Linked DNA regions of Homo sapiens. The protein of the gene in region 2 interacts with the protein of the main gene of each other region in a biochemical or structural test. Each region holds a gene or a part of one and is shown on either strand. Other genes may lie near its edges. The genes, in order: PLEKHH2, FRMPD3, ARHGEF26, AMOTL1, EFNB2, ARVCF and RSRC2.

The links.
Region 1: the proteins of FRMPD3 (region 2) and PLEKHH2 interact in a test that uses a peptide from one of them, tested with the Homo sapiens proteins (one large-scale study listed by IntAct).
Region 3: the proteins of FRMPD3 (region 2) and ARHGEF26 interact in a test that uses a peptide from one of them, tested with the Homo sapiens proteins (one large-scale study listed by IntAct).
Region 4: the proteins of FRMPD3 (region 2) and AMOTL1 interact in a test that uses a peptide from one of them, tested with the Homo sapiens proteins (one large-scale study listed by IntAct).
Region 5: the proteins of FRMPD3 (region 2) and EFNB2 interact in a test that uses a peptide from one of them, tested with the Homo sapiens proteins (one large-scale study listed by IntAct).
Region 6: the proteins of FRMPD3 (region 2) and ARVCF interact in a test that uses a peptide from one of them, tested with the Homo sapiens proteins (one large-scale study listed by IntAct).
Region 7: the proteins of FRMPD3 (region 2) and RSRC2 interact in a test that uses a peptide from one of them, tested with the Homo sapiens proteins (one large-scale study listed by IntAct).

Annotation. Positions count from the first base shown.
Region 1 is NC_000002.12:43,758,718-43,763,323, reverse strand, and holds part of PLEKHH2 (pleckstrin homology domain-containing family H member 2), read right to left. Parts: intron 4,425-4,606; coding exon 4,295-4,424; intron 1,021-4,294; coding exon 934-1,020; intron 1-933. UniProt on the Homo sapiens protein: In the kidney glomerulus may play a role in linking podocyte foot processes to the glomerular basement membrane. May be involved in stabilization of F-actin by attenuating its depolymerization. Can recruit TGFB1I1 from focal adhesions to podocyte lamellipodia.
Region 2 is NC_000023.11:107,602,170-107,605,751, reverse strand, and holds the end of FRMPD3 (FERM and PDZ domain-containing protein 3), read right to left. Parts: coding exon 2,379-3,582; 3' UTR 501-2,378; downstream 1-500.
Region 3 is NC_000003.12:154,250,390-154,253,889, reverse strand, and holds part of ARHGEF26 (rho guanine nucleotide exchange factor 26), read right to left. Parts: exon of another isoform or gene 2,663-3,500; intron 2,569-2,662; exon of another isoform or gene 775-2,568; coding exon 707-774; exon of another isoform or gene 1-706. UniProt on the Homo sapiens protein: Activates RhoG GTPase by promoting the exchange of GDP by GTP. Required for the formation of membrane ruffles during macropinocytosis. Required for the formation of cup-like structures during trans-endothelial migration of leukocytes.
Region 4 is NC_000011.10:94,861,837-94,866,442, reverse strand, and holds part of AMOTL1 (angiomotin-like protein 1), read right to left. Parts: intron 1,709-4,606; coding exon 1,583-1,708; intron 502-1,582; coding exon 275-501; intron 1-274. UniProt on the Homo sapiens protein: Inhibits the Wnt/beta-catenin signaling pathway, probably by recruiting CTNNB1 to recycling endosomes and hence preventing its translocation to the nucleus.
Region 5 is NC_000013.11:106,529,163-106,532,662, forward strand, and holds part of EFNB2 (ephrin-B2 isoform 1 precursor), read right to left. Parts: intron 2,894-3,500; exon of another isoform or gene 1-2,893. UniProt on the Homo sapiens protein: Cell surface transmembrane ligand for Eph receptors, a family of receptor tyrosine kinases which are crucial for migration, repulsion and adhesion during neuronal, vascular and epithelial development.
Region 6 is NC_000022.11:19,974,740-19,979,345, forward strand, and holds part of ARVCF (splicing regulator ARVCF), read right to left. Parts: intron 4,342-4,606; coding exon 4,158-4,341; intron 3,337-4,157; coding exon 3,219-3,336; intron 2,848-3,218; coding exon 2,676-2,847; intron 1,985-2,675; coding exon 1,967-1,984; intron 1,939-1,966; coding exon of another isoform or gene 1,838-1,938; exon of another isoform or gene 1,829-1,837; intron 1,019-1,828; coding exon 947-1,018; intron 1-946. UniProt on the Homo sapiens protein: Contributes to the regulation of alternative splicing of pre-mRNAs.
Region 7 is NC_000012.12:122,512,978-122,517,583, forward strand, and holds part of RSRC2 (arginine/serine-rich coiled-coil protein 2), read right to left. Parts: intron 4,454-4,606; coding exon 4,250-4,453; intron 2,251-4,249; coding exon 2,128-2,250; intron 1,752-2,127; coding exon of another isoform or gene 1,739-1,751; exon of another isoform or gene 1,735-1,738; intron 898-1,734; exon of another isoform or gene 790-897; intron 1-789.

The DNA.
Region 1 (4,606 bases), on a different chromosome or scaffold from region 2:
GGACTGAATGCCTCAGACCCACCTGTGTGTGCTTCCTGGCCTGTCTGGCTACCTCCTGGGAGCTAGGGAGCTAGTTTTCTGAACTAAGGTAACTTAGTACTGGTGTATAGGTTTTTTGGTTTGTTTGTTTTTACTTTAAGTCACTGATTTTATAATATCTTCAAGTTATCCATTTAAAAACTAAAAGGCACTCAGAAAATATAACCCCTTGAAAAAAAGTGTGTGTGTGTTTGTTTTTTAAGCAATTATAAGGGGAAACAGTGACTATAACACAAAAGAATAGTTTGGTTTCCAGAAAATTTTCAGTGATCTTCTGATTATAGCCACAGGATTAGACCTGCCAGGTGAATTTAGTAATTCCTGCTCACCAGATTAAACAAAAAAGAGAATAAAATTGTATTAAATAATTAGACACATGAAATATGATAAAAAATGTAAATTTCGGGTAAATAAATGAACACATATAGATATCATAGTTTGAATTTAAACTATGTGAAAAGTGCTAAGATGCTATATAAATGACATTATAGGAAATTATAGAAATTGTTAAAGAAGCCTTAGTGAAAGTGAACTTAAACTTTGGTAATTAAAGTTCCCACCTTAATGATTTCTTACAGATTTTTATTTTACACAGGAAACAATCTTCTTAACACTTTTAAAAAATAATCATTTCATGAATGTAACCATGATCACAATTTAGTCATGGTATCAAGATTTTTCTCATACACAATAAACGACCTGTCTTATCTTGTTTTAAAAGGTTAAATTATAATCATAGCTGTATTTGTAAAATGACTGTTCATGACATAGTATTAGGAAGAATGTTTCCTGGGTAAGAGAAAAATCAGATTAAGATATCATTACTTTCTGTTTACGGTACACTGAGCAATGGAAACAGTTGACTTAATGCAAAACTTGAGCGTTTAAACTTACCATGGAGTTGTATTCTAAGAGGCTTAAACCATCCTCATGTACAGCCAGCCACAAGAAAGTACTTCCAAGTGATGATGGAGTTATGGGCTATGAAGAGGTGAAAATACACTATATTATAAATACTAAGCAAAATTACAGGAATATTTTTCAGTCTAAATGTCATGTAACATTTGCCATTAAACAACAATAATAACAACAAAAATTTATTAAAAATCTCGCCTAGGAAAGAGGCAGGGTGGTATACCGGAGCTAAGAGTGAATTCGATATTAGGAGACCTAGCTTTGAGACCCAAACCTGCCATATATTAATGTATGCATTTGGATAAACTACTGAATCTGTTTGAGGCTCAATTTCCTCATCTTTAGCATAGGAACAATAATGTTTATATTTTACTTTTCTTCTGCGTTAAGACGTTAATAGTCAACAAGTTTTTAGGGTTTCTATGATGACCAAAATCCTAATGAAGCAAAATATACTGATATGCTTGATAAGTTGTGTAGTGCTATTACAAGGTAAAAGATTATTATTATAATTGCACACCTTTCCTGAAAGTTTATTAAATCTGATATTCAATGTGTAATAAAAACACAATAACAAGAAAATATGAAACTGTGTAATCAATAGTAATGAGAAATATGAAAATTTCCACCGAATTTTTTATTGTAAAAGCTACGAAATTGACTGGGTGTTGTGGCTCTCGCCTGTAATCCTAGCACCTTGGGAAGCCGAGGTGGGTGGATCATCTGAGGCCAGGAGTTCGAGACCAGCCTGTGCAACATGACGAAACCCCATCTCTGCCAAAGACACAAAAATCAGCTGGGCATGGTGGTGCACGCCTGTAATCCGATCTACTTGGGAGGCTGAGACAGGAGAACAGCTGGAACCTGGGAGGCGCAGGCTGCAGTGAGCTGAGATAGTGCCACTGCACTCCAGCCTGTGTGACAGAGTGAGACTTCATCTAAAAAAAAAAAAAAAAAAAGCTAAAAGCTACTCCTGGTTCTCATAGAAAAAAAAAGCTATGAAATTATATTAATAAAAAGAATCTCCTACCACTAGAACCCAACTGAAACCCATGAATGTTTTTGAGCAATTAATGATGCTTGTTTGGTTCCATTAACAAATGAAATCCTAAAAAAAATCTTAACTATTTCCCTTAAATTTTACAAAACAATGTCAAGACTATAGATATAAAACTGGAATGAATGTTGGGTTATTTTATATAATAAAACTTGCTAGCATCTCATATATACAAAACCCTGAGTTAGAAACTGTCTACTGAGGGCTGATTTGCAAAGGATAGGGAGAATTCAATTCAAAAGGATGCCCTTCAACTCTAGTGTCCACTGACAGGTGAATGGATAAACAAAATGTGGTATATATATACCTACAGTGGAATGTTATTCTGCCTCAAAAGGGAAGGAAATTTTGACACATGTTACAACATGGATGAACCTTGAAGACATTACACTAAGTGAAATAAGCCAATAACAAAAGCACAAATATTATATGATTTCTCTTACCTGAAGTTCCTAAAGTAGTCAAATGCATAGAGACAGAAAGTAGAGTGGCAGTTGCCAGGGCTGGGAGGAGGAGGGAGGACTGGGGAGTTAGGTACAGTTTCAGTTTGGGAAAATAAAAAAGTGTTTAGATGAATGGTGGTGACAGCAACACAACAATGAGAATGTACTTAATGCCACAGAACTATACACTTAAAAATGGTTACAATGGGCCAGATGCGGTGGCTCACGCCTGTAATCCCAGCACTTTGGGAGGCCGAGGCGGGTGGATCACTTCAGATCAGGAGTTCGAGACTAGTCTGGCCAAAATGGTGAAACCCTGTCTCTACCAAAAATATAAAAATTAGCTGAGCGTGGTGGTGTGCGCCTGTAATCCCAGCTACTTGGAAGGCTGAAGCGTGAGAATCGCTTGAACCTGGGAGGCGGAGGTTGCAGTGAGTCAAGATTGCACCACTGCACTCCAGTCTGGGTGACAGAGTGAGACTCCGTCTCAAAAAAAAAAAAAAAAAAAAAGGTTAAAGGGTAAATTTCATTATGTGTATTTTACCACACACAGAAAACAGGATGCCATGAAGCAACAAAGGAGGTGTCGCTTGTTATAAAGAAAGAAAAGTGAGCAAAAAAGATGCTTGTCACGTAATTTGAAAAGCAATATTATTATTTAATAATATTTTGTGCCAGCAAGCACATTTTATCAGAACAGAAAAGGGTATTTAATATTACTTCCAATGCTGAAGTTAGAATTAAAATCCATGCTGCTCTACAGTTCAAATCTATTCCTTGTAATTTTAAAAAGTAACGTTCAACTTCCCGTAAGTACATTAATTTTATAGATGTTTAAGAATACTAACTTTATCATCTTTTTCTTAATTAGTATACAGCTTTCAGTTCCACTAGAAAAAAATTAATTCTCACCTATCAATAATATAGTCACTCATAGAATCAGAGTTAGAAGATACCTTAGATTTTACTTTTCTAATCTAAGTATTTCATTAACAGATGAGGAAAAGTGAGGTCCAGAGAGGTAACCTGACTTGCCCAAAGTTGCACAGCTATTCAGCAATATTTATTAAGTGATAATTATTAATTACGTGCAAAGCACTACAGTAGGTACAAGAGGAAGATTTTAGGATCAGTGAGTTTATAGTTTCAAGGAGCATGCAATTTAATAGTGAGTATAAAACAAACACACAGAAAAATATAACACAAGGCAAGATGTATCTTAAGAGCCTGAGAAAGTACAAAGAGACATGTTTCAACAGAAAGAAAAGGAATCAAAAGGCATAATTTTTCCCTTGGGGAAAGGGCTGGCCATCCCTGGGCAGGGTGGGTCTCCTTCCTCAGTGTTCCTGCAGCAGTCTGTTCATGTGACTCATAGTGATATTTGCCATACAGTGGTTTGTTTATAGGCCTGTTGTTACAAAGTAAAATAGTCCTGGAAGTTCATGTACAATCCATCTGAAACAATAGGTTATGTATCCCTAGAGCTTAGCTCAATGTTTAGCAGACAGAACTTAGTAAATACTAATGAGCAAATGAGTGACAGAGTAAACATGTGCATGGATGAATGAATGAACAGAAGAATGCAGAGTTCAGCTGTGGTTTAGGACTCATGATTCACCTAATGAGTCCAAGAAATGATTTAGGGTGGGAAAAGTTGGGCAGAGAGGAAAAGATAGAGAAGCTTTTCTGCCCTTTCTCTAGTGTCTCTTCATTGTTTTCTTTACATTATTGGATATTTCTTCATTTTTTACAAAAGCCAAGGATACTAAGTCTGGGGTAAATCTGGTCAACTATGTACACAAAGGTTTTCATTATGCATCTCTCTCCCATTCTTTCTTACTTTTGCAAGAAACAACTTGGCACCAAAGAATGGCCACTTCCTGGCTACTGTCAAATAAATGCGCACACAGTCAGCAGCACTGTGTCCCCGGAGGGCCATCCATCTGGTTGAAAGTCGCTGGCAAAGCTGCCTAAAAAAAAAGAAAAGAACAAAAACAAAAACACTAAAGCAAAAACATAAACAGTGTGTCATAGTCTTAAGATAAAACTCTCCTTGAGCCAATCCTAAGCATAACTGTGATCCCTAGGCATAACCCAGGTAAAGATTTTGTGACTCTCATCACACCACTGTCCATCACTTGTCCTTTCTGGA
Region 2 (3,582 bases):
GGCCAGAGGCTGTTGCAAGGGATTCCATAGCCTAAACTGCGAGGCAGTCAGGCTGCACTCTGAGAGCAAGAAGGCACAGTTCAGAGGGAGAGGCCCCATTTCCCAACCCCAGTCTGAGGAGTGGCCTAAAATCCTAATTCCCAGGCCATCTGATACACTAGGCACAGAGCACACTGTGTTTCTCCACACAACCCCCCACACCACCTCCAGCCCTTCAGCTCTGAGGTCACAGCCATGGGGGCCAGGTGAGCCAGAAGCCTCGTGGTCAAGAGAAAGAGGTAGACAATTTCCAACTCCCATGAGAAACAGTAGGCTTCAAAGAGGAGCAAAGGGGATCCCCTGTGTGTTGGGGAGGTGGGAGGAACAGGGTCCTTAGCTCTCATCACCCACCAGTGCCCAGTACATAAGAGCAGGGGCCCAGGATGAGCACACAAAGGGCCACCACCAACCAACAATTCAAGGACACAAGGACACCCACAAAGAGGCACCGCAAAGACTTATTGGGATAGTAAGATGAATAGATTTAATCATTCTTGTTTGAAAAACAAGACATAAATTAGTATATATATAATTTATATATTTTATGTAGTATATATACTATATACAGACATTAGAAAATGTTTCCTCTCCATGAGGCTGAGGGAGAGGTGAAGGATGGCGGTGGAATGACACAGGCAGGGGCTGAGTGGCGAAGTTGGGAGAAAAAGAAGACCATATCAGCACTCCAGCTTGCAGTGGCTGAGGGGAAAAGGATTCCCCACTGGCTGCATCTCTGGCCCATTCAACAACTTGGTCCTGGGGGAGGAGAAGCAAGGAAGTGAGGGGCTGGATTCTGCAGAAGAAACTCCCCTCCTCCTTGCCGGGAGAACTCACCACTCAGGGAGACTTTATTGCACTAGGGGCTACCAAGGATGGGCAGGGATTAAGCACAGTGTACATCTTTATAAAACTCACATCAGAATGAAAGATTTCACATGGGCCTCTGACACAGTGATGAAACAGAGGCAGACACAGGGCACAAGGGTGTGGGAAATGGGGAGATATGGAGAGGCGGACGAGAAGCAATCTATACAGAAGAAACATTGGCTTTCTTTGTTCCCTACAGTGGGACAGTTGGTAGGGACTCCGTGTCTTCACTCCCAGGAAGGTTGCGGGGGTGGGGGGCGTGGGGGGAGGGTTGGCAGCGGTGGTGGCGGTGGTGGTGGCAGCGGTGGTGGCAATAGGAGGTGTGTGTCAAGGTGGATGTTAAACAGTGTGAATTCCCTTCCAGATGGCTCCAGAGAGGGAGAAAGGTGCAGGACTGCACCGGGTAAGGCGCTCAGCTTCTTTTCTTAGAGAGACAAATCCACAGGGTCAATACACAGCCAAAAGCATATACTCAGGATTAACATATCACGCTAGCTTCCAGAAGTTTAAGATATAGTCATCAACACCCCCCACCCCTACCCCTTTCCCCCCTCCCCCCACCCCCCTCCCCGATCCACAGCTAAGTCAAACTCCCAAGGACAGTCTGTCTGGTAGAGAGATGTTGAGAGAGAAGCCTCATGCCTGCAGCAACAGCCCCTGAGCTGGGCTGGGCCGGGCTAGGCGGGCTCCTAGGCCTGCACTGGGTCTCCCCAGGCAGACGTTTTCATCAGGTACCTTACCCAAAATGAGTGGGGTGATCCCAGATGCTTGCTCCCTAGTGGACTGAGCTGCCCTGCCCATCAGTGAGGGGCAGGGCACTTTGGGGATGGCTGGTGTGGAGCTACTGGACCTGGAGGTGAGGGCTCACCAGGCTGCCGGCCAGTTGGGCCGCTGCAAACAGCCTAGTGTGGCTGTTTTCTGCAGACATCTCACCCAGGCACAGGCCCTCAGGGTGGCATCTACCAGGTGAGTGTGAGCCCAAGGTGGATGGGGACATCTGGACTGAGCGCCCTCTCCCCTCGGCACGGCAATGTGGCCTGCTGCTACTGCCACTGCTCCCAGCAGGGGAGCCGATGCCACGAGGAGCTCAAAGCCTGAGGGTCCGCTTGCTTCAGGCCCTGGCTCCCCCAGCGCCCAACACGGATTGAGCAGGAAGTGAGCCTGATGTCACCTCTCAGCCCCAGAGAAGAGATAAAATACAGCTCTGCTGTGAGCAGAGTGAAGAGGGGCCTTTGCCCTCACAGTGAGGCCCAGAGGCCAGGGAAGGGGTGAGGACACCCAGGGCGGCAGCTAAGCCTGCAGCCCTTAAGAGAGAGCCTCAATCAAGAGAGTTTCCACTCCCCGGAGACTGATGGGCTCTTGGACCCTGACTGGCCCAGCAGACACACACACACTCACCACAAGATGCAAGGACCACAAAGCTCAAACCTGGGGCCATGGTTGGGGAAGGGGGACAGGTGTGGGCAGATGCCCTACTTAATAAGGGTTTTTAAGGAGTGGGTGAATGTGCTCATAACAGTCGCCGAAGTTGGGGAGCCTGGTGGATGCTCTGTGGCTGCCCCTGCAGCTGCTGCCACCTGCTGCTGCTGCTGCTGCTGTTGTTGTTGCTGCTGCTGTTGTTGTTGCTGCTGCTGCTGTTGTTGTTGCTGCTGCTGCTGGTTAAGGTTACGGGCTGTGGACTCCTCAGCTGCACGCAGCAGGAAGGTGTAGTTCCTCACCACCTCTTCTACCTTGGCCAGCAGCTCTTGGCGCTGGGCCTCGGAGCGCACAATGAACACCAGCCGCACGAAGGTCTCAATGAGGCTGCTCAGCACCTGGAAGCTGCCCGTGATGGCTGCCAGCATGTGAGTTGGGCTCTTGTCCACATTGGCCACACGGCGGCAGGAGGCCCGGAGCTCCTTGAACTTGAGAGCTAGCTCAAGCTTATACTCGGAGATCTGAGACACATAGGGCTTGGGGGCACGGGCCTCGGGGCTGGCCACACACTGCCGCAGGACTGTCAGCAGCTCGTTGGTGTCCAGCCGGGCAGCCAGGAAGCCATCAGGGAGGCCATAGGCATGGGCCCGCAGGGCATTGATCTTGGCCAGGCTCCCCTCGAAGGTGGACACACGGAGGTCAATCTCCTGAGTGCGGGAGGCCTCAGGGCTGCTGCTGCTGCAGGTAGCAGCATCCAGCACCTGCAGGGTCCTGCTCACCACAGGCACCACCTGCTCGTCCAGCTTCATGCCAGGCAGGATCTTCATGGGGATAGAGTAGGAGAGCTCATCCTTGCCATCACTGGCATCATCTGCCATGTCACACTTGCGGTAGTAGAAGCAGTAGCGGATGGAGCAGCACTTGCTGCTCTCACTGTCCTCGTCTAGCTCGGCAGGCTTCCGGTACACCTCCTCGGGCAGTGAGAACACGGCCATCTGTCTGGGGCCTTTGGTCTCTGGGGCAACCTGGACGTAGGAGGGGTCTCCCAGCGTCGGTGACTCCAGAGACCTGCTTTTGGGACCCAAGGCTATGGGGAGGCTTGCCTCTACCTCCTTGGCCTCCCTGGGCAGCATGCCCAGGGGAGGATGTGGGTAGACATCCGAGGTCAGCGAGGCCCTGTCACCCTGGTCCAGCTCACTGATACTGTAGCGGCGCATCAGTTTCCTGTAATTGGGAGCTCCCAGACACTCGCCCCCCGAG
Region 3 (3,500 bases), on a different chromosome or scaffold from region 2:
CGGGAACTTTCAAACCAGTCATTTTGGCTTTTAATCTAAGCTTAAAGCTATAATTTTTGAGTGTTCCAGGATAACAATGTTTTGTTCTAATTCTTTGGATTTGACCTTGCAACTGTAATAATCTAAGAAACCACAGCATCAAAGTTAGGAAGCTAATAGGCATACAACACCCCCCTTCACTGCGCCAGTTTCTAATTCTCTAGAATAGTGAAACACACTTTCTTAGAAGGTCAAAAAGAATTCTTAGGTAATTTTCTTTTAGATTAAAAATACTTTTCAGCTTAAATCCAGACTGTCAGTATGTAGAAGGTTTAAACATGATCAACTGTTGCCCACTGATAATAGCTAAAAATTTAAGGGCTTTACAGTTCAAGTAGGGCTTTTAACATAGATTATTTAACTTAATCTTCACAATAACCCCATGTTGTATATAATGGTGTAACTGACTTGCAGATGGTTAAATAGGCTCTGCAATGCTAAGCAATGATTTGACACGTTTACACAACAAAGAAATGCACCTTGGATTTGAATTCAGACCCCCTGACTTCCAAAGCAAGGATCATACATTTTTGGTGTAAAGCAGAAGGAAGCCCTGGAGGAAACTTAGGCAAGTATTGTGGCAATATAACTCGTTAGTAACCCGGCGTCCAGCAGGGGGCAGAGCCCATCCATGTTCCCAAGTGGGCTTCCCCTTGAGAGAACTTACAGGTTCGGTCTGCAGGCGGCTTCCCGCTGCTGTGTCCCAGGGCAGTTATCCAGCGGGCTCGCTCGCTCCTAAAACAGAGGGCAGATCCAACTGAGAGACTCAAGGTGTAAAAACACAGAATGGAGTGTTTTCTAGGCAGCCAATGCAAAGGCACTCCCAGAAAACAAGAGATTCTCTAGAGAGGTATGGTAAAACAGGGTGAGAGTAGTTTAAAAGTGATAAGCTGGAAAGTCTAAAATAAGCAGGAGACTAGTCATCATTGTCAAAAGAGTCTGAATGAACTTGGCTCATTATTGATTAAAAGGAACTTCCCATATGACAGTTTAAAAGTTAATAAGGAGCTGATTACACGAACACATTATAACTCCAAAAGGTATTTAGCATACCCATAATTTGATGTTTAACATTTCAAAAGCAGTTAAGTTTCATTTTTTAAAAATCCTACTAATTTCTCTGCTTCCTCCCCACTTCCCTTCCCACACACTCAAACCTTTCCGTAAACTTGAGAAACTTGACATATTTAGTTGTCTCATCCCTCATACAACTAATTTTGCCAAATATGAGTCTTACTGAAATAGAAATTCTTTGGCCACTTTTACACTGTTCCCAAATGCTTAAAATGGTTTAATGAGCACAGGAAAAATGACCAATACTTTTAATATAATATTAAGCTATAATTACATAAAAATAATTATTCAACTAAAGGATCAAAAGTTTCAGATAAGCAAGCACTTCTCTACATAATGCAGTCACCCTGGTTTTTTATTTTGAGCACCAAGTATTAAAATTACAATTAATTAAATACTGCCCCGCCACACACATACTTTTAACTCTCTTATGTATTTATTAAACACATGCTACATGTCAGACACTGCACTCAACATCCACTATTCCATGTAATCCTCTCAAAAGCCCATCTGAAGGATGCTAAGATCAGACAGAAGTTCAGAGGCAAGCAATTCAAACCAAAGTCAGTTTCTACTGTGCCACTCTACATTCTTAAGAAAAAATGCCTTCATGACCAACACCTGGGGAAAAAAACTCTTCTCTCATAGCAGCCTGAATCTACAGATGCTTGTCGCTGTCACCCCACCTTCATCCCCATATGCATCCTTCCAACCCAGGCAGAGAGGATGACTTACCGCATTGGAACATAGCACCCTTGCCCCAGCCTTTCCTATTCCTTCCCTGTTTTTGCGTAGATAAGCCCACTCATTATTGCCATTAAAATTTCTTAACATACATAACATAAACTGAGTTAATCATAAGCGTGTACAGCTCTGTGTTTACTTACCAAGACACAGATGCGCCAGGCATTTCCATTCTGACCCTTTCCAATCAATAACCTCTGTCCAAAGGTGACTGCTCTTGTTTTCCATTACCATGGAATTTCTATTACCATGCTTCTTTTGTACTTTTTGCAAATGAAATCCTTTAGTATGTATGCTTTTGTATTTGGCTTCTTTTGCTCAACATATATCCACTCAATGCTGAAAACACAAGGCTCACTTCCTCCAGTGGGGGCTCCTCTGATACATAAACCAATCCTTCCATCTCCATCCCAGTCTGATAATCCTGTTTCTAGGGCACCCCTCTGCACAATTCTATTATATTGCTGGTCAACAGTAAGCCTCATAAAAGCAGGCAGCTTATCCATTTGGTTCACTGCATTATCTCTACAACATTGCCCAACACGTAACAGGGGCTCAGTATATGTCTGCTAATGAATGAATTATATAACTCATCACATATTGAGCCCAATCATTTACTGACTCATCTGCTTCTCTTACCAGGCTATAAACTCCAGAATGGCAGGAATTGGGCCTTGTTCTAAATAATATTCTGAAGCACCTATGTGTCAGGTATGGTACTAAACAATTGCAAGTATCATCTAATCTAATTTTTACAACAATCTTGAAAAGAAAATATTACCAAAATTATTTCTATTTTTTTCAGAGGACAAAGCAAGTCTGGTATGTTAAGCACCTAACCCAGGCAGTCTGAAATCAAAGAGGTGGTGTTACGCAGCAGGTGTTTACAAAATAATGATGGAAGGCAGGAAGGGTGGAAACTGTGGTATCTTGAAAGACAGGCATTTTCAAAGATTAAGATGAGGCTGGGCCTTGATCAAGATGGTGTGTCAAGTAGTAATATGCACAATTTATATAGAAGCCAAGGCTCCTGTCTTGCTTTTAAAACCTCTCTCTCTCTCTCTCTCTCTAATACAGGACAAAGGGCTTTACAATAGTTCTGTAAGAAATAAGCAAAGCACAACTTCATGTAAAATAATTCCCAGGCAAACACTTGTATCTTTGCTATGATGTCTTTATTGGGAATAAGATCTATTTTTTACACAGGCTCAAGTGGAATTTGCAAAGTACAAAGCCAATCGAAAACAAAATACCTCATGAATAGAAGTGTTGCTCACCAAGAGAAATCTAAAATGATCCATTTGTGTCTCTCTATGCCATACTGAAACAAATTATACATAGCCTATACTGCTGTCTTCTGGAGCAATTTAGAGCAACTTGGAGCCAGTGAGGCAGATCTTCCTGTACACAGACACCGTCTCTGGCACTGAGTGGCCAGTATCAGCAGTGGCTTTGCCCTACAGCCAGTTTCCAGAAGTCCAGATGAAATCTTTCACTTCTGTGGCATGCTGCCTGGATGCTAATAGCATCTCTTAGACATGGCCACCCCTCACAGGGACTCCAGAGGATAGAACAAGACACTCCTTGTTGCTATCACTAAAAGGAGCAGCTTTTTGAGACTTTCAATTGAGTGAGTCCCACCC
Region 4 (4,606 bases), on a different chromosome or scaffold from region 2:
GTGTTATAAGGGTCACCTCAACTTACAACAATAATAGATAATTCTGATCTGAGTCAACCCATGGCTAAGAGCTACTCCAGTGGTGCAGTCTTTAGAATTTACACAATGCTTCCACATATCTATAACTGAAGTATGACTGATTTCCCTCCCCACTTCACAGATGAGTAAACTGAGACCAGGAACTATTCAGGGACATTTCCGTGTCCCATGAGTGGCAGAGAAGCTGTCTGGTCTTGCTTTTCCAATCATGGTCTGACAGAGGTGTGGGGCTCACCTATGCTCCCCTTCCAGGTCTTCTCTTCCTTCTTTTCCTCAGCCAGCTGGCTGCTGGTAAGAGAGGTCTGGCGAGAGTGTGTCCCAGTAGCTGCTGCTATGGATGGAACGGAGCGGGCAGGACGTAGGCTGGAGGAGTCTGTCTTCCCGGCATCTTTACGAGATCGCTGCTGCAGGACCTTAATCATAGCATCTTTCTCTATGATTTTGGCATGGAGATTTTTAATACTGTAAAACAAAACAAAACAGTCTCCATAAAAAGCCACTTGGCTAGAAAAACTTGAAACATTTATCTCAGGCTGTCCCAAAGACTTTAATTGTAATTTAGGGATACAGGATGAAGCACAGTACGAGTCTTCAAATGTTGATAATCTCCAAATTGTTAAGACAGGTCTTTTGTCATATGTCAAAAGAGTACACCTTCTCTGGCACCTTGGGAGACTGGGACTTCAGCGAGGTACAGTTAGAATGACCGTGGCCACATTCCTGGACCGAAGTCGGCTGGGGACCATATTTAGAGGGTCTAGCATTGGCGGTGGGGGCCGGGGGTAGGTAGGGGATAGGGAAGCATAAAAACTCTAAAGCCTCAAACAGGGTGAGCTTTCAGCTAAAGTCAATTTCTCTATTTTCTAAGAAAAAAGAACCAAGATGAACAGGTTCTCTGGTAGAAGATGATTTTTCTGGAAGAATGCTGAGTTATTTTCACAACTTTGATAGTAACTCACTGAGCCTATCTATCAATGGCTCAACTACTCAGCCCTATTTTCACATCTGCAAAATAAGAGGCCTAGGGCTCCCAGGGTTCCACAAGCCCTTAGGTAGTGAAGGGGGACAGGCTAGTTTTATTATGTCAAAAAGTCTGCTGGAAATTTTGTGTAGCCCATCAGAAGAGTGCATTAGCTAAATATGTTCTTTATTTTGGACTGGAATATATAAATTCTGGCTCAAAAACTCTGAATCTTTGGGATATAATGTTTCCCCCTTTCAGCTCATAATGTCATAGAGATAGACACCAAGAAATAACACAGACATCTAAATTCTTCTGTCACTAGACTCAGCCTGCATCTTAAAACCGGCAGGTGACACGCAATTTCCCCCAGAGAACTCCGGCACCAGATCCATTGCTGAGTGGAACCACGTGCTTAGGTTGGAACCTTTTCCTTCTCTCCATGGCACAGCATGGGGGAGGAGAGTTTTTGGAGACCTCATGCTCACAGCCTTTCAGAACAGGACAGAGAAGCAATCTGTTCTGGAAGGCCTGGAGTGTGAATGCAGCGGGCCCCACACGTCACACATAGTCGTCCCTTACGTGTATTCCATGTCCTGACACCTTCTGTTGGCCTGCACCACCTCCTCCTCCTCTTGCCAGATGTGGGCCTCCAGCGAGCTCTCTCCGTAGCTGCCATTCCGTGAGTGGTTGATGATCGTGGTGTCCCTGGCAACACAAGGATATGCGTTTGATCATAGGAAACCTTCTTGCTTTGTCTCAATGCAAACAGACACAGAATGGAGAGGCTGGTGTTCATGCTGGAACAGAGATCAGCTCTGCATCTCGCATTGGCTCATGAAGCCTTTCCCTCCCAATTTCCCCAGCTCAGTTATCAATCTCATCTGATGCCCATACAGAGAAAGGTGTAAATGCTTGTGGAGAGGTGATCACAGGGTGCCGTGCTAAAACTCCACAAACTCCTTCACCCACTTTTCCTCTCCTGAATTCTGTCCAATTCTCTTCCTTAACTAGATAGAATTAAGCAGCATCTAAGGAAAACAAAATAAAATTCAAAAATCAAGTCCCCTCCCCCTTCTGACTACATTATGTATGTAGCTACATGGCATGTTATGAATATGTAAAATGGGCACCTAGAGATTTAATCTACTGACTTATGGACACTATTATTATTATTATTATTATTATTATTGTATTTGTTGGTGTTTCCATGCTTGTACTTTTTCATGCTTGTCCTATACCTCACTTTTCCAATCAGAGTTTAGGTTTTATTTCTGTTTATCATCCATACAGCATAGAATGCCTACTTCAGTATTTTACAGTAAAATGGGGGCTCAGTAAATACTTAAAACTGAGACTGGTCCTCTCAGAGAGTGAGGCTCCAAGCTGAAGTCTTCCTTCATGTTGTATTCTGTCTCACTTCTTGTTTTATGGGCCCTGCCTGGGATGCAGGTCAGGACAATGTAATAGGCATGCCAGGGTCCAGGACAGAAAGAAGAAGGCAGACACTGTCCTTGACAAGTTCAGGTGAGGTGGGTGCAGTGAGGGCAAGGGCAGACACGAGAAGATCAAGAAGCAGTTTCACTGCAAGCATCTGTCTGACTATAAACAACCAGTCACAGATAACTATTCCTGCCACTGGTTTTGACAATTTAATTACTACTAACTAACAATGATTAGTAAAAATAAGATCACTGCATCATCTAAGTGATATAGCTCAAGATGAAAGGCACAATAATGGCTCTGACTACATGAGTATTTAATTAGTAAGACATGATGTAGCCAAGTATTTCACATCTTTTAACTTCATATTCCAATGTACAATCATACTGAAAAACTTTTTTTTTTTTGAGATGGAGTTTCATTCTTGTTGCCCAGACTGGAGTGCAGTGGCGTGATCTCAGCTCACTGCAACCTCCACCTCCTGAGTTCAAGCGATTCTCTTGTCTCAGCCTTCCAAGTAGCTGGGATTACAGACATGCGTCACCACATCTGGCTAATTTTGTATTTTTAGTAGAAATGGTGTTTCACCACGTTGGTCAGGCTGGTCTCAAACTCCTGACCTCAGGTGATTCACCCGCCTCAGCCTCCCAGAGTGCTGGGATTACAGACGTGAGCCACCGCGCCCCGCCTGAAAACTTTAAAGCTTTTTTTTTTTTTTTTACAGAATAGCCCAAAACAGAAAAATAGAGGCCCCTTTAATGACAGCTATCAACATTAATGAGCATTTACTTCATACAGGGACTGGGTAGGGCACGGTACACATGGTCTCTCATTTAGTTCTCACAACTTGTGCACAAGGTATTATTATCCTCAATTTCTAGATGAAGAAACCAGGGTTAGGTGACATTTCCAAGAATACTCAGTTAGTGAATAGTGAAAATGGATTCTAACTCAGGTATTTATGACTCCAAAGTCCATGCCCCTAACCATCGCTCTATACTCCTGCAAGTTTCATATGTCTTTAAGAAGAAGGTCTCAGCAAAGATGAGTAAAGATAAAAACAAACCAGAGGGCATATGTGAGAATGTGGCTCAGAAAAGTGCAAAGTGTCATTGAAAATACACTAAAGGCCAAATGATGTAGAAAGCAAACAAAATGCTTTAAACATATTTGCAAAATTATAAATTCACACTATGGTGCACAAAATCATCAATATAGAAATTAGTGGCTAGAAACATTTTCAACAAATTTACTTTTGGAGACTTTACATGGAGCTGGAAACAAATCTGAAAATTCATGTTTACATTGCCAAGTAAGGAGAGCAAACACAATTAGAGGAAAGCAACTTAGATAGTAAATATATAAAACTCTGAAAGAAATATTACATTGCTTTGAAATTTTTAAAAATTTTCAAAACCTTCTGCACACATAAAAGATAAGCTGACTCTCTAAAAATTCTGACCAACACCATCAAGATGCATAAAGATGGGAAAACCAGTTGGTTTACAGAAGTTATTTTCTTTGTTTAAAAATCATTGATTATAAATATAAAGCATGCATCTGTGGTTGAAAAGTCACAAAACTAATGGCTGGAAATAGTCATTTTTACCAATTTGACTGTGGCCATTTAGCACCTAGTCAATAAGAGCTCAAAATGTGTACCTTTCTCAAAAATGTTTCATTTTCCTTTTTTCTCTTACTGAAAAGAAAAAAGCAATTCTGAAATGACAGAGGTTTTCTTTGAAAAGAACATTAAGATTGGAGCTATCTGAGGTTCTCTGAACCTATTCCCCCACCCAGAAGGGGTAGTCTGTAATGGGGAGGGTAGTTGCTCACAGAATTATTAGATGCTCAATAAATATGTGTAAAAGCAAAGAAGGAGGGGTGACGGGGATGGAAAGGGGCTCCCTCTGCCCATCCAAGACTCCAAATAAGGCAGAGAAGGGGAACAGTGGGACTGGGTAAATCCCACAGAACTCCTGTTCTCTGGGGTAAGAGTCATTTCCCCTTGCACGGAGGATAAGAACAAGGCTGGGCCTAGAATCCTGTGAGTGGGTGATTGTGACTGGGTCTGGTTCTCCTCGCTCCCTACCCTCCCTCCTCTGCCCACTACAGGGTGTATGCTTTGGACTCATTCATTTCCCGACTTCTGAATTTTACTTT
Region 5 (3,500 bases), on a different chromosome or scaffold from region 2:
GAGGGAGCTGGGTCTGAAAAGATGGCTGAAATCAAAAGGTCTCTGTTTTCTTTTCAGATAACCCCAGCCCTACCTATCCCCTCTGGTCTCTGTTCCTTCCCAGCATGTCCCTGCCTGAAGCCCAAATAGATTAAGGCAACGACCGCGAAGTGCAGTTAATCCTACAGAACGGCTGCTGCTGTTAGGCCAGGAGTTAAAAAGGAAAATCTCCCAGGCCCTAACAACTGCAGTGATCTGAAGTTTTAATCAGCCCCAATCTCAATCTATAAAAAAGGCAGTCAATGAAATCTACCTTTGCCATATTATCCACCACCAATGAGCAAGAACTGAGCAGCTTTTCTTTACTGCCTCAGCCATCCCAGACCACAAGTAGAGCTTTCATACTTCCTAATCCCAGTTTCCAAGTCTGTGTGGTTCTCACATAATGCCCAACAGCCTGGAGGCAAGGGCCTTCGTCCCGCGCCCTTTTCAGAGACGTGTCATTTCTAACATCAAGCTAATCTATATGTTGCCATGGCTTCACCCTTTATCTGCCTTTACATCTTATGAACTGCATGGATTTACCACATTATTTTTATCTGAAAGACAGAAAATGGTGGTTTTATTGCCATACAATCAGATTACTGCTGCTAGTTTCTCTATGCCTTTTTACTATACTTCAATCAAAAGGGATCAGTTTCTTTATACTCTGCCCTTGATTTACATCACATCTGTAAAGACCTAGTCTGAGTTGTAATCCCCTTATTAACTATGACCAGGGTTGATTTGCCTAAAAATAAAAGCAAATTGTGTCAGACCCTTTCACTTTGTTTTTGATTCGGAACTACAAAATGGATTACTAAAGAAATCTTCAGAGTTCACACGGCTAGTATCGTGCTGAATTTAAAATGAGAATTAAACAAGTTAAACAGGGGAGGCATGTCAACGGTTTACATCTTCCATCATGGGAGAAGGGCTGAATTGCTTATGTCTTTGTATTCTTTGGCTTTATAGAGACAATGAAGCCACAGGAGTTTTTCCAAGCTGTTCGGAACATGTCCCATTTGCTATCCTTCCTTCTTTGCTGTTCTTATATTCCTCCCCCAGCCTCCTTCTAATTCCCCCCTTAAAAAGAAGGGGGGAGCTGTTCCCTGAAAGAGCTAATTCCTGACTAGAAGCTTATAGTTCTATGGGTTCTGCATATTTTAATCAAAATATTTTAAACAGTTGAGCACTCCTCTTTAAGGCTCTACTCCGCTACACAAAGGGTGAGCTCATAAGCAAATCTATGTAGATGTATATTAAGTGACCTGAAAAACAGGTTCTTTATGTCAGCAGCAAAGGCAGGCAGAGATTAGGCTGATAGGAGGACCAGTTTAATCACCTTCCTTAGAAGAGCACTTCTATTTGTCTAATTTGCAATTAAGTATTTTAAGAATGAAGTTCTCATAAAACGTTAAAGAAATATCTTTCCTAAAAATTTTTTTATTAGGGTCTACAATCTGTATTTCCTTTTCCCCTGCCACTCCCATTCCTATGACGCATTACTGCAGTCACGCTGGGATCTCGAATAGTTTCCCATTAGGTGAACGCACTCTAAAACGTCGCCCGAAGTTTGGTGTCATACTGAAGCTCTCGGGAGCTACCTGGAAGATTTCAGAGGAAGGAAAGACAGCAAGGATTTAGTTGCTCCAGTTGCAATGTCCATCTGAAGGCAATTATCTCACTGATCCACCAACCGAAGGATGCACCTCAGTAAGTTTACAGACAAGAGGTTTTAATATAAATCCACCAATTGTTCTTCAGCTGACTCTGTCTGGAGGAACCATTCAAACACATAGTTTTTAGCAAGCTGGTCTCCAGGCCCATGGCGAATTCACCTGTCCACACACTTTAGCTTAAGTCAGAAGCCTCTGGAAATGTTGGAGTCATCTGCATGTCTTTGCGTCGGCAGAACCAGCGTCAACAGCTTATGCTTTGTAAAAGATTTAGAACCAGGTGCTTAGCAAATCATCTTAACCTCCAGCTCCTGTTTCTGGGGCTTGAAGCTGTAACTGTTGAGGTTAAGATGTGCAGTCCCTAGACACATGATTCTCAAATAAATTCTCATCTGAAAAGAAGGCTACCAAGCATGTTGTGAGGTATCGCTTTAGCTTAGTCTTTGTGCTCTGCCTGGCTCAGTTGTCCTGCAGAACAACGACAGTCCATTACCTACAGTTTATCATCCTGACAAAATGTGAGGAATGTGGATGTGAAAGCACTAACAATTCCACCCCTGGTGCTTTGAGCTTTTTTCTCTCTATATTAAAACCGACAAGATTAACCCAAACGCAAACTGTGGAGCATAGTTCAAGGGGCTATTCAATCAGTGCTGAATGTGCATTTGTTTACCTACAAAAATAAGAATTTCAGACACAATGGAAGGCAGGCTGGCTTATATATGTTATTGAATGGACTGTTTAAACAGCACTATCCATTGTAGTTTATTTTATCAATCTCTGACAGGTCTGTATTTATTCAGAGCCTGATTGTGGTGAAGCCCATGTATTATACGTTATCTGGATATCATCCAGCCATTCTTTTGTATCAAGTCAATTAGTATCAGGAATCCAGTATTATATAGGGAAAAAATTACATGGGAAAAGCAAAATGCTATGTTAACTAACTAGTATGTGATGCACAGGGAATGGTAACCCCAGACATAAGGCATTAGTACTCGAAATTTTCAAAGTCAGTGTAATGCATTGCAGAACACCATACCAATACAGATTTGCTCACATTAAAGTAAAATTAATTTTTTTTTAAAAAAGAGCCCACTACTTTACTTAGGCCAAAATCTCCCTCTTGGAAGAAAATGTTCTACTGAAGTGTTAAGTTAAAAACGGAAGCTAGGCATTACTGTTCTCTGCTGAATTAAAAAAAAAACAAAAAAAAAACCAAAACTTTAAACAACCAAAATGGCTACAACGGACCCAACTCTACCAGAACGTATCAAAGCAATGTGAATAACCTAACAGGGCAGCTACTGTTTCAGCACGCAGGACATCTTTCCATTATTACATACAGTCAGGGACGGGAGAGCCGACAATGTGATTAAAGTAGTTACGGAGACGCTGAATTTACAAAGGGTTTTCTGGACCCTGTATCCAAACAGCTGCTGCATGCTCCCTGTGTCGACCACCTGCTAAAAAAGCTGACCTCTGAATGAAACAAATCTAATTACTGATGGCGGCTTCATTACAAATGAATTGTTCCACAGTTCATAGGAACTGATGTGAAACTTCAATGCATTTGATTACCTTCCTGCCACATCATATTTACCGATTCAAACTTTCCTCTGGAAATAAATATAAAACTTCCCCAAGGAAAGCGACCCCCTGTCATCAGGGGGTTGTATGCATTCTCAAAAACTTAGAGAGGACTCTTTCCTATGGCTCCTACAGGAAGAAATCTTTCTGATCTCTGGAGCTAGCATTCAGCTGCAAGGGAGACCTTTTCCAGGCACACATTATCCAGTCATC
Region 6 (4,606 bases), on a different chromosome or scaffold from region 2:
CTCCCCCACTGACAATAGAGCCCACCCTCTGTAAGTCAACTGATGCAGTGCAACCAGGGCAGCTGCCCTAGCAACAGGAGGCACTCTTCCTGGCAACCACTCCAAGTTCCCGGGCAACTGAGGCGCCGTCCTGCTGCTCTGCCCAGTGCTCCAGAAATGAGGGGTCAAAACAGCCTTCCAAGCTTGCCTGTCTCCAAACTGGGGCTTCAGCCTGGCTTGGGTACTACCTCGATCTCCCCTGTACCCACCCAGTGACATTTCATCACACCCTCGCCAGTCCTCATGCCCCATGCTCCCTCTACTCCTGCCCTGCTGGGCTTTCTGCTCCAACACACTCCAAGCACACTCCCCGCTGGGGTATCTGCATCAGCCCTGCTCTGCCTGTAATACTCCCCCACAGCCCTCCTGCGGCTGGAGCCCTCCACCCTGGTGACATGCAGGCTCTTCCAACTGGCTAGGCCCCACCAGGACAGACCTCTCTCTCAAGCCAGATCCCAGCATACAGCCCAATAGGCACTGCCCTGTCCCTGCAGGTGTTCGTCTGGCCCAGCCTCTGAACCTGGATGTGAGCATGCCCGCCTGGCTCCCAGCCCCCTCAGATAACTCAGCTTTGTGGCTAACACAGGAGGCCCTGCCTCCACTGGAGGCGTCCCTCCAAACCTTCCCACCTCTTACGCACCGTGAGGCCGAGCAAGCCCTCGGCCTCTCTGTGCCTGTCTCCCCCAACCTTGCCTGACATGACCCATGGCACTTCCTCCCATTCTAAACCCTCAGCAGGTGTCCTGGTGCTGAATCACCCTCCAGGAAATCCTGCACCTAGGGGCCTGTTTCCCCATCTGTTCCCTGAGGCCCTCCAGGCCTGCTTGATGGCTCAAAGCTTCACTACCAGGGCAATCCTGAGCCCAGACATCCCCCAGTGGAGCTGGCTTCATCTCAGCCCACTCACCTTTGGCGGCCTCAGTTCGCTTGGGCAGGTCTAGCGTGTCAAAGTTCCGGTCCATCTCACCATCCTTCTTTCCTGGAAGGGAAAGGTGGTGGGAGGTGAGGCAGACCCCATATGGGGAATGGGTGTATCAGGAGAGTTGGGCACAGTTCTCTCCTACCCAGGCCCCAAAAGGCACCCCCATGTCCAGGCCTGGGCACCTGTGGGAGTGGAGCACCGTTGTCAGAGTTTGGGCAGACAGTTTAGCCTAGGGGTAGGAGTTGGTGGCAGTGGGGCCTGGGGATGTCCCAGCCCTGCCCCTAGGACTCATCTCCCACCAGGTGCTGGGAGCTGTACCACAGACCCTCCCGGTGGCTCCCTTGCAACTGCCAGGTATGTAGACTGAGGGAAGCCAGGAGCCCTGGCTGGATGGTAGGTGGATACAAGCCAAGAAACTGAAGGCTGACCAGGACAAGACTCACTTGGGTCACACAGTAAGGCAGAACTAGGGGGAAACTCCCCCAGCTGGGGTCAGGACATTGTCCCAGGATCTACTAGCCAGGAGAAACCCCACAGCAGCCCACCTAACATTTGTGTAGCCCTGGCTTGCACACGTCTGTGACAGTGAGCCCACTGTCAACCACTCTCCCCATGTCAGATGATGCTTCTACCCCTTCAGAAGGCAGCAGAGTGGAGCCAGATGACCTGGGGTCCCTGCCCTGCTCACCCTCATGGGACCCTTGTATCCCTCCGAGCCACATGATGCCCCATTCTATCAGAGAAACAGACTGCTCCTTGGTGCCCCTAGAGATAAGTACCCCCGGGCCCTGCCCACTCTTGGCTCTGCCCAACTCTGCCCAGGTAGGCAAGTCTGAGGTTACAGAATGAGCCCCGTGGCCTTCCCACCTGCCACTGTCATAAAGATGGCAGCCCGAGTGATGAAGCCAGGGGTGGGGCAGGGCCCTGGGGCTGGAACGTGCTCGCCTCTTCCCAGGTACCCACTGCACACGCCAGGCCTGGAGAGCAGGATAAAAAGGGACTCACCTTGGTGGAACCACTCCTCTGGGAGGCCGGAGGAAGCAGAGGAGAGAGGAGAGGAGCCTGAACAGGCAGCACTCATCACCCCCCCATGCCCTCCCGGAAGCCTCAGGTTCCCACTGCACACCCTGGATCAAGCAGGCAGCATGTGGAACCTCATCCCATCACTTCTGGGCACTGAGCACCCACCAGGGGTACAAGAAGAGGGAGGCCTGGGGTCAGTGGGGCAGGGGCAGGTGGCGTACAGGTCCCCCACAGCTGCTGGGGAGGTCCTGGGAACCTACACCCTGCTAGTGCAGTAGAGAAGGTGTGCAGGGCATCTTGCCCAGGCAGATGGGGGGCTGCCCCACAGGTTGGTGGCAGTCTACAGCTATTCTGTGAACAGTGAGCAGGCAGCAGCCATGGCTCCTTCCCAACTCATGGGCAAGTGGAACTCTCCCCGGAGTAGAAAGACTGGGTCTGGGCATTGGTTGGTTTCCCTTGTGTACTCCCTGGGGGTCCCACAGTGTAGATGGGGAAGGTTGGACCTGGGTCCCATCAACCATGTGACCCAGGGCAGTCCAGCCTCCTTGACTCCTGGCTTCCCTGCCTGCCTGTTGGGGGCTGACCAGGTGTCCTCTAGCCTCCATGATGGGCTGCTGTGGGTGTACAGAGAGCCTTCCGCTGGGGCAGGAGTTGAGATGGTAGAGATGATACCCCAGTCCGCCCCACCCACCTTTGGCCTTCTTGCCTCCAAAGCAGCTGGCATCATCCCGCCTCCGGCGCTGGGAGCCTACAGCACTGCCCAGGGGCCCGGGCTCGGCCTCCTGGTACCTGTCGGCCCCGGGCACCTCCTTGTGCACGTGGTAGGACAGGTTCCGCATGATGCACACGCAGTTCTCCACCGACTGCAGGGAGAGGTGAGTGGGTGGGGCAGGGCACCCTAGGCACAGGGCTGGCCCTCAGGAAAGACTGGCCACAGCTGGTGTGCATGAGGGCACCGGGAGCAAAGGAACAGGGAGTCCTCAGTGGAGGGGAGCAAAAGGGCGGTAACCGCCAGGAAGGGTCCATGGGAGGAAGCCTCTGCCCTCACGGCACACCTTCTGCCTGCAGGACGGTGCCCACTTCAGTGTGGTCACTGCGAGGCGGGCCACACCCAGAACGCCACCCCAGACCCACAAGCCCATTCCCCTGTGCTGCTCCCACAGTTCCAGCCTCCTGGGACCTGCATGATCGTCTCTCCAGCCCTTGGTATGAGGCTGTGACCGTCCCTGCCCACCTTGTTGTCAGTGTCCTTCCGGCCCACAGCCGACTGCAGGGCATGCAGGAGCGCGTCCACCAGCCCTTCACACTCCCGGAGTCGCCGCCGGGCCTCAGCACCATCGGAGCTCACATTCCTGTGTGGCCAAGAGCAGGCCAGGTGACCCCTGGCTACCAGAAACTCCCTGGCTCCACCCTGGCCTTGTGGGCTTGTCTTCATCTGCAAAATAGGCCCTGCTGCTGCCCTCCTAGCACTAATGGGAAAGGACCCCACAGTCTGGAGCTCAGTGAAGGGGGAGAAGCTAACTGCCCCCAGGCCTCAGGAGGGGAGCCCTGGCAGACAACTATCTTGGCTGGGGATAGCTGGGCAGGGAAAGACAGGGTTTCCCTGCCTCCCAGCTGACCTGGAAAGGGACAGGTGCACTCTCAGAGAGACCTGAACCTGTGCAAGGGCAATTCTGGGTCCCTCGCCACCCCAATGGCAGCTCTGGGCCCCACCTTACCCCAAGGTCAAGAGCCTGCAGGGCTGCGCGGGAACACCCTGATGGACAAGCAGGACTGTGGGGACCCAGGACTCTGTGGGGTCAGCAGGGCCTCCCAGGGGTAGGAGGGGAAGGGCAGAGGTCACAGGTGGCTGGGATGAGCCTCCCAGGCAGATGAACAGGAAGGTCCCAGCTCCCCCTCTGGCTGTCAAGTGATGGGAAGGTAGGTGAGAGCTGGGCAGGGCTACGGTACCACAGAGACCCCTCCAGAGGGTGCCCCTGGGAAGACTGGGACACCACTTGGGGGTGAGGACAGCTCCATCAGGCCCCACTTCTCATCCACAGGACTTGTGCCACAGCTCTGAAGCTCCTAAGCTCTGGCGCTCCTAAGCTCGCCGCCATCTTCCACACTATCTGGGACCACGAGGACGGGGCCTGGTGTGCATGTGGGCTTTAGCACCAGGTCTGGTCCACACCTCAGGCAGCCCGACGTGTTCTTGAAGACAGTTGTCCACTCGGCGTCCCGTGGCTTGGAGTCCTCGTTGGGCTCACGCTCCCATCCTGAGTGGGGCACGATCACCTCGTGGGTCAGCGTCTGCAGGCCATGGTCAATGATGACCATCTTCAGGGGCTCATAGGATGACAGGTTCCACAGGGTGCCTGTGGGGTGCGATTGGCCAATCTGTGCTGACCATATGCACCGCCTGCCTACCTCCCCAGGTGGCCACGCTCAGGACCTGTCCCACTCTCCTCATGTCCCAGCTCATGCAGAACAGTAGGAAGTAACAAAAGCCGTGAGTGGTTCCGGGGGACACCCAGTACTGGTTTCCAGCTAGGAAGGAGCCCCAAAGGGGAGGAGGTGCAGAGGAGGGTGTGGCAGTGCTGTCCCGTCCCACCCATTCCCTGCCATGTGGCAGGTGGCACT
Region 7 (4,606 bases), on a different chromosome or scaffold from region 2:
AGGCCAGCAGTTCGAGACCAGCTTGGCCAACATGGCAAAACCCGTCTCTATTAAAAAGAAAACAAAAATTAGCTGGGTGTGGTGATGCGCATCAGTAATCCCAGCTTCTTGGGAGGCTGAGGCACGAGAATTGCCTGAACCCAGAAGGCAGAGGTTGCAGTGAGCCAAGATCATGCTCCTGCACTCCAGCCTGGGCAACAGAGCAAGACTCCGTCTCAAAAATAAATAAATAAATAAATAAATAAATAAATAAATAAATAAATAAATAAAATAAAATAAAAATAAAAAATAAAAAAAGTAGGTCACAGATCTGAAATGTATTTCCTAAACAGTTTTAAATCCTGACCTTTAAGCCAAAAAAGAAACCAATATAAAAGGTCTATACATGGTAGTTTCTTAAGAAAAAAATTCTCCAGATTTCAAGGTAGTAAATAATCTCATATTCTGAAATTAAAGAACTACATTTAAAACTTTATCTGAAAGATCACCAAGTAATCTATATATCAATGACATTTTGGATGCTATTAACGGCTTCACTTTTAAAAAAATCCAAAAACACAAACAGAATAGACTTATGGCATTCAAGTAAATAAGAGCTTAAAAAATATTTGTCAGAGTTAATGAAATTACAATCTAGCATATACTAAATCCAATTTTATAGTAAATTATTTCCATACTAGTTTCAGAAAGAAGATACGTGTGACTACAACTGGTTGCATTAAAATGGCCATTGAAGATTTGGAATTAATACCATTCACTAAGGTGAATGGAAAGAAGGGGTGAGCTCACACTTTTGCTGCTGTTCAGCTGCAGTTTCTGTCAGGCTGGGTTCCCAGGGAAGCACATCAGGTTACACTGTGTTACCAGCCTGGGCAACATAGGGAGACCCCGTCTTCTCTACAAAAAATACAAAAATTAGCCAGGCATGCCTGTGGTCCCAACTACTTGAGAGGCTGAGGTGGGAGGATTGCTTGGGCCCAGGAATTCAAGTATGCAGTGAGCCGTCATCATGTGCCACTGCACTCCAGCCTGGGTGGGACCCTGTCTCAAAAAACAAAACACCTTAATTTTGTAACGAGAGAAAAAAAAATCAAAACCTAAAAAGTCTATTTTTCAAAATATGGGAAATACTGCAAACAAGTGCTTGGATTTTATTTTACTTTTTGCCTCTCTATGAGGCAGTTCTTTGAATAGTTTTGCAGATTTCAATATATAGTCGTGCTGTGTGTGGTTTCACCATTACTCATCTTTGAAACAGCAGAAAATTTATTTTTGTGTGTGTGTGTGTGTGTGTTTTTTTTTTTTGAGACTGAGTCTCGCTCTATCGCCCAGGCTGGAGTGCAGTGGTGCGATCTTGGCTTACTGCAACCTCTGCCTCATGGGTTCAAGCGATTCTCGTGCCTCAGCCTCCAGAGTAGCTGGGATTACAGGCGCCTGCCACCACGCCCAGCTAATTTTTGTATTTTTAGTAGAGATGGGGTTTCACCATGTTGGCCAGGCTGGTCTCCCAACTCCTGACCTCAAGTGATCCGCCCGCCTCGGCCTCCCAAAATGCCGGGATTACAGGTGTGACCGATTGCACCCGGCCGAAACAGCAGAAAATTAAAAAAAAAAAAAAAAAGTTCTCCCATAGTTACCAGGAATAAAACTTACAAGATCAAATAAATTAGCTTATAATGTATTATCTGTTAATTGCCATCTTCAAAATAATAATATTGACAAAATTTTACTTACTGTTTCAGGTATTTTGTCTATTTGAGGGAGAAAAACAAAAAGTAAAGGAAAAGTCATCTTAGATGAGAAAATAATAGTTCTTGAACCAGATTTAAGACTCAAAAAAAAAAAGTTTCAAATGCAAACTGAAAATATTTGGGAGTCTAAATTTGAGAAAAATGAAATCAGTTAAATCATGAAGGAAAAAACAGAAATTGTAGACATCTCAATCTTATAGTTGTGCAAATGTTTAGGATGAGAATTAAACTATTTACATAGTTCTAGATCACAAATATGCCACCATATTACTAAAGTATGTGAATCATTCTCTTACTGAAAGAATTCATCTTATCCACACAATTGAGCATTTATTTAAAGGCGAACTGGAACAAATGAATTAAGAAATATACACACCTTCTAGCTAAAGCTTCCTGTGCATCCATTGCTGTGTTTCTGCCTCTGAAGGGAGGTGGACTTGGAGTCCGGCTTAAACTTCTGCTAAATCTTCTCGGCTTTTCAATTCTCTTCTTTCTATCTCTGTAGTAAATCGTATTTCATATGTCAAATTATGGCCAAGTCATAACTATTTTGTTAATAAGAAATCAATTAGTTCAAACAAAAATCCCAACGATACAAAAACATTTAGTTTGAGATGCAAAAGATTTAAAACATCAGTGTTACAGCTGAACTCATTGGAAATAACATTTGTTTCCAACTCCCTCATCCCTTTTTAAGAGACAGGGTCTCACCATGTTGCCCAGGCTGGCCTCCAGTGATCCTCCTGCCTTAGCCTCCAGAGTACACAGGTCTACAAGCATGCCCCACCGCATCTGGCTGTTTCCAATCTTTTGCATAGTATATCCAATGTTGGAAAAGCTAGCCTTATACATTAGTCATTTTGTGCTCTTGTAGGTCAATATGTATACCACAGGAATCATTCCTACATATTTTCATCTACAGTGAATTTGTAGATGTTTTTCAAAAATAAAAAGTTATTAACCACTAAAAATTAGGTCTGGCTGGGTGCTGTGGCTCATGCCTGTAATCCCAGAACTTTGGGAAGCTCAGGCGGACAGATGACCTGAGGTCAGGAGTTCGAGACCTGCCTGGCCAACATGGTGAAACCCCGTCTCTACAAAAACACAAAATTTAGCCGTGCGTGATGCTGGGTGCCTGTAATCCCAGCTACTCGGGAGGCTGAGGCAGGAAAATCGCTTGAACCCAGGAGGCAGAGGTTGCAGTGAGCCAAGATTGTGCCATCGCACTCCAGCCTGGGCGACAGAGTGAGACTCTGTCTCAAAACAAACAAAAAAACTAGATGTCAGTGACCAAAAAAGCACTTAAAAAAAAATTTCTTAATTGGTAAGGTTCAAAGTAGTAAACTACTATAAACTAGAACCACTGAGTAAAAATTCATATTGATTTAAAGATCAAGTGATAAATCATAAAAACCAAGTTACTGTATTAAGTACAGGTCCCTTTTTAAATGTATGTTTCAATCTTTCATACACTGACCTAAGTTGCAATCAATTTACAAAAGTCAGTATACTACTGTCATATGTAAACAAGCAGAGAATAACGCATTCATTGAAGAATATTTATAATTAGTTTTCCTCCTGTGCTCTTTATTGTACACCTCCTATCTCAACAAAGCCTCCTCCCACCAATCAAGATAAATCTAAATTGTGTTCATTTACAAACAAAATCTGAGGTAGTTTGTACAATACAGTGGGTTAAGCACATGCATGGAATTTGCATTTAGATATATCTGAAACCTGCTCCTGGCTCTAGCACTTAATAATGATACTGTTTTGGAATTCTGGGGCAAATTTCTTAAACGTCTTTAAGCACGACACACTTACCTTTCAACATGGTTCTTCTGAGAACTAGATGAGCTAATAACATGCAAGGAGTTCTAGCATACAGCATATGGTAAGTATGCAAAAGGAGATTTTAGTTATTTGTGATAATAAAATTAATACAACAAATCCAGTGTTGAACACAACTGAATTTGTTTGTTACGACAGGATTCACTCCTGTCACCCAGACTGGAGTGCAACAGCATGATCTTGGCTCACTGCAACCTCTGCCTTCTGGGCTCAAGTGATTATCCCACCTCAGCCTCCCAAGTAGCTGGGATCATAGGTGTGGGTCATCACCCCAGGCTAATTTTCATATCTTTTGTAGACATGGGGTTTCACCATATTGCCCAGGCTGGTCTTGAACTCCTGGGCTCAAAAAATCTGCTCGCCTCGTTGTGATTACAGGTGTAAACCACGACACCTAGCCAACAACTGCATTTTAATAGGCCTATTCATACCTGCACTTCGCAAGAGATTTATCAATCACGAGAATACCTGTGAATGCTATTCAAGTGGTTAGGTGTGTTCTTCATACGTTAGGTAATGACTAAAATAATTTTACCATAATCTATAAATAGAATTGTGACTCACAATTTTAATACTCTCTTACTGAGGAAGATAAACAGACTCTCTGAGGGTCCTATTAAATTTTATTCAGGATGATGGTCACCTACCGACTCCTACTCCTTGTCCTACTCCTGCTTCTAGTCCTATGCCTGTGTCTTGATCTTGAGCGGGAACGAGACCTGATCCGCCGTTTTCTTTCCCTGCTTCTGGATCTCGATTTCTTCCTCTCTCTGCTTCTGGATCTCGATTTCTTCCGCTCCCTACTCCTGGATCGAGACTTCTTCCGCTCCCTGCTTCTACTACGATGGCGTCTGAAATTAAAGTGCACAAATTTGTAATTACTTAAAAGTTGTGTTGTTTCATTTATACACATCATGAATTAGTTACTTGTAGTAACGCAATAAAGACAAGCAAGTAACTGCACTATATTATTTACAGAAATAAGCGAGATTTTCAAAGGAAAT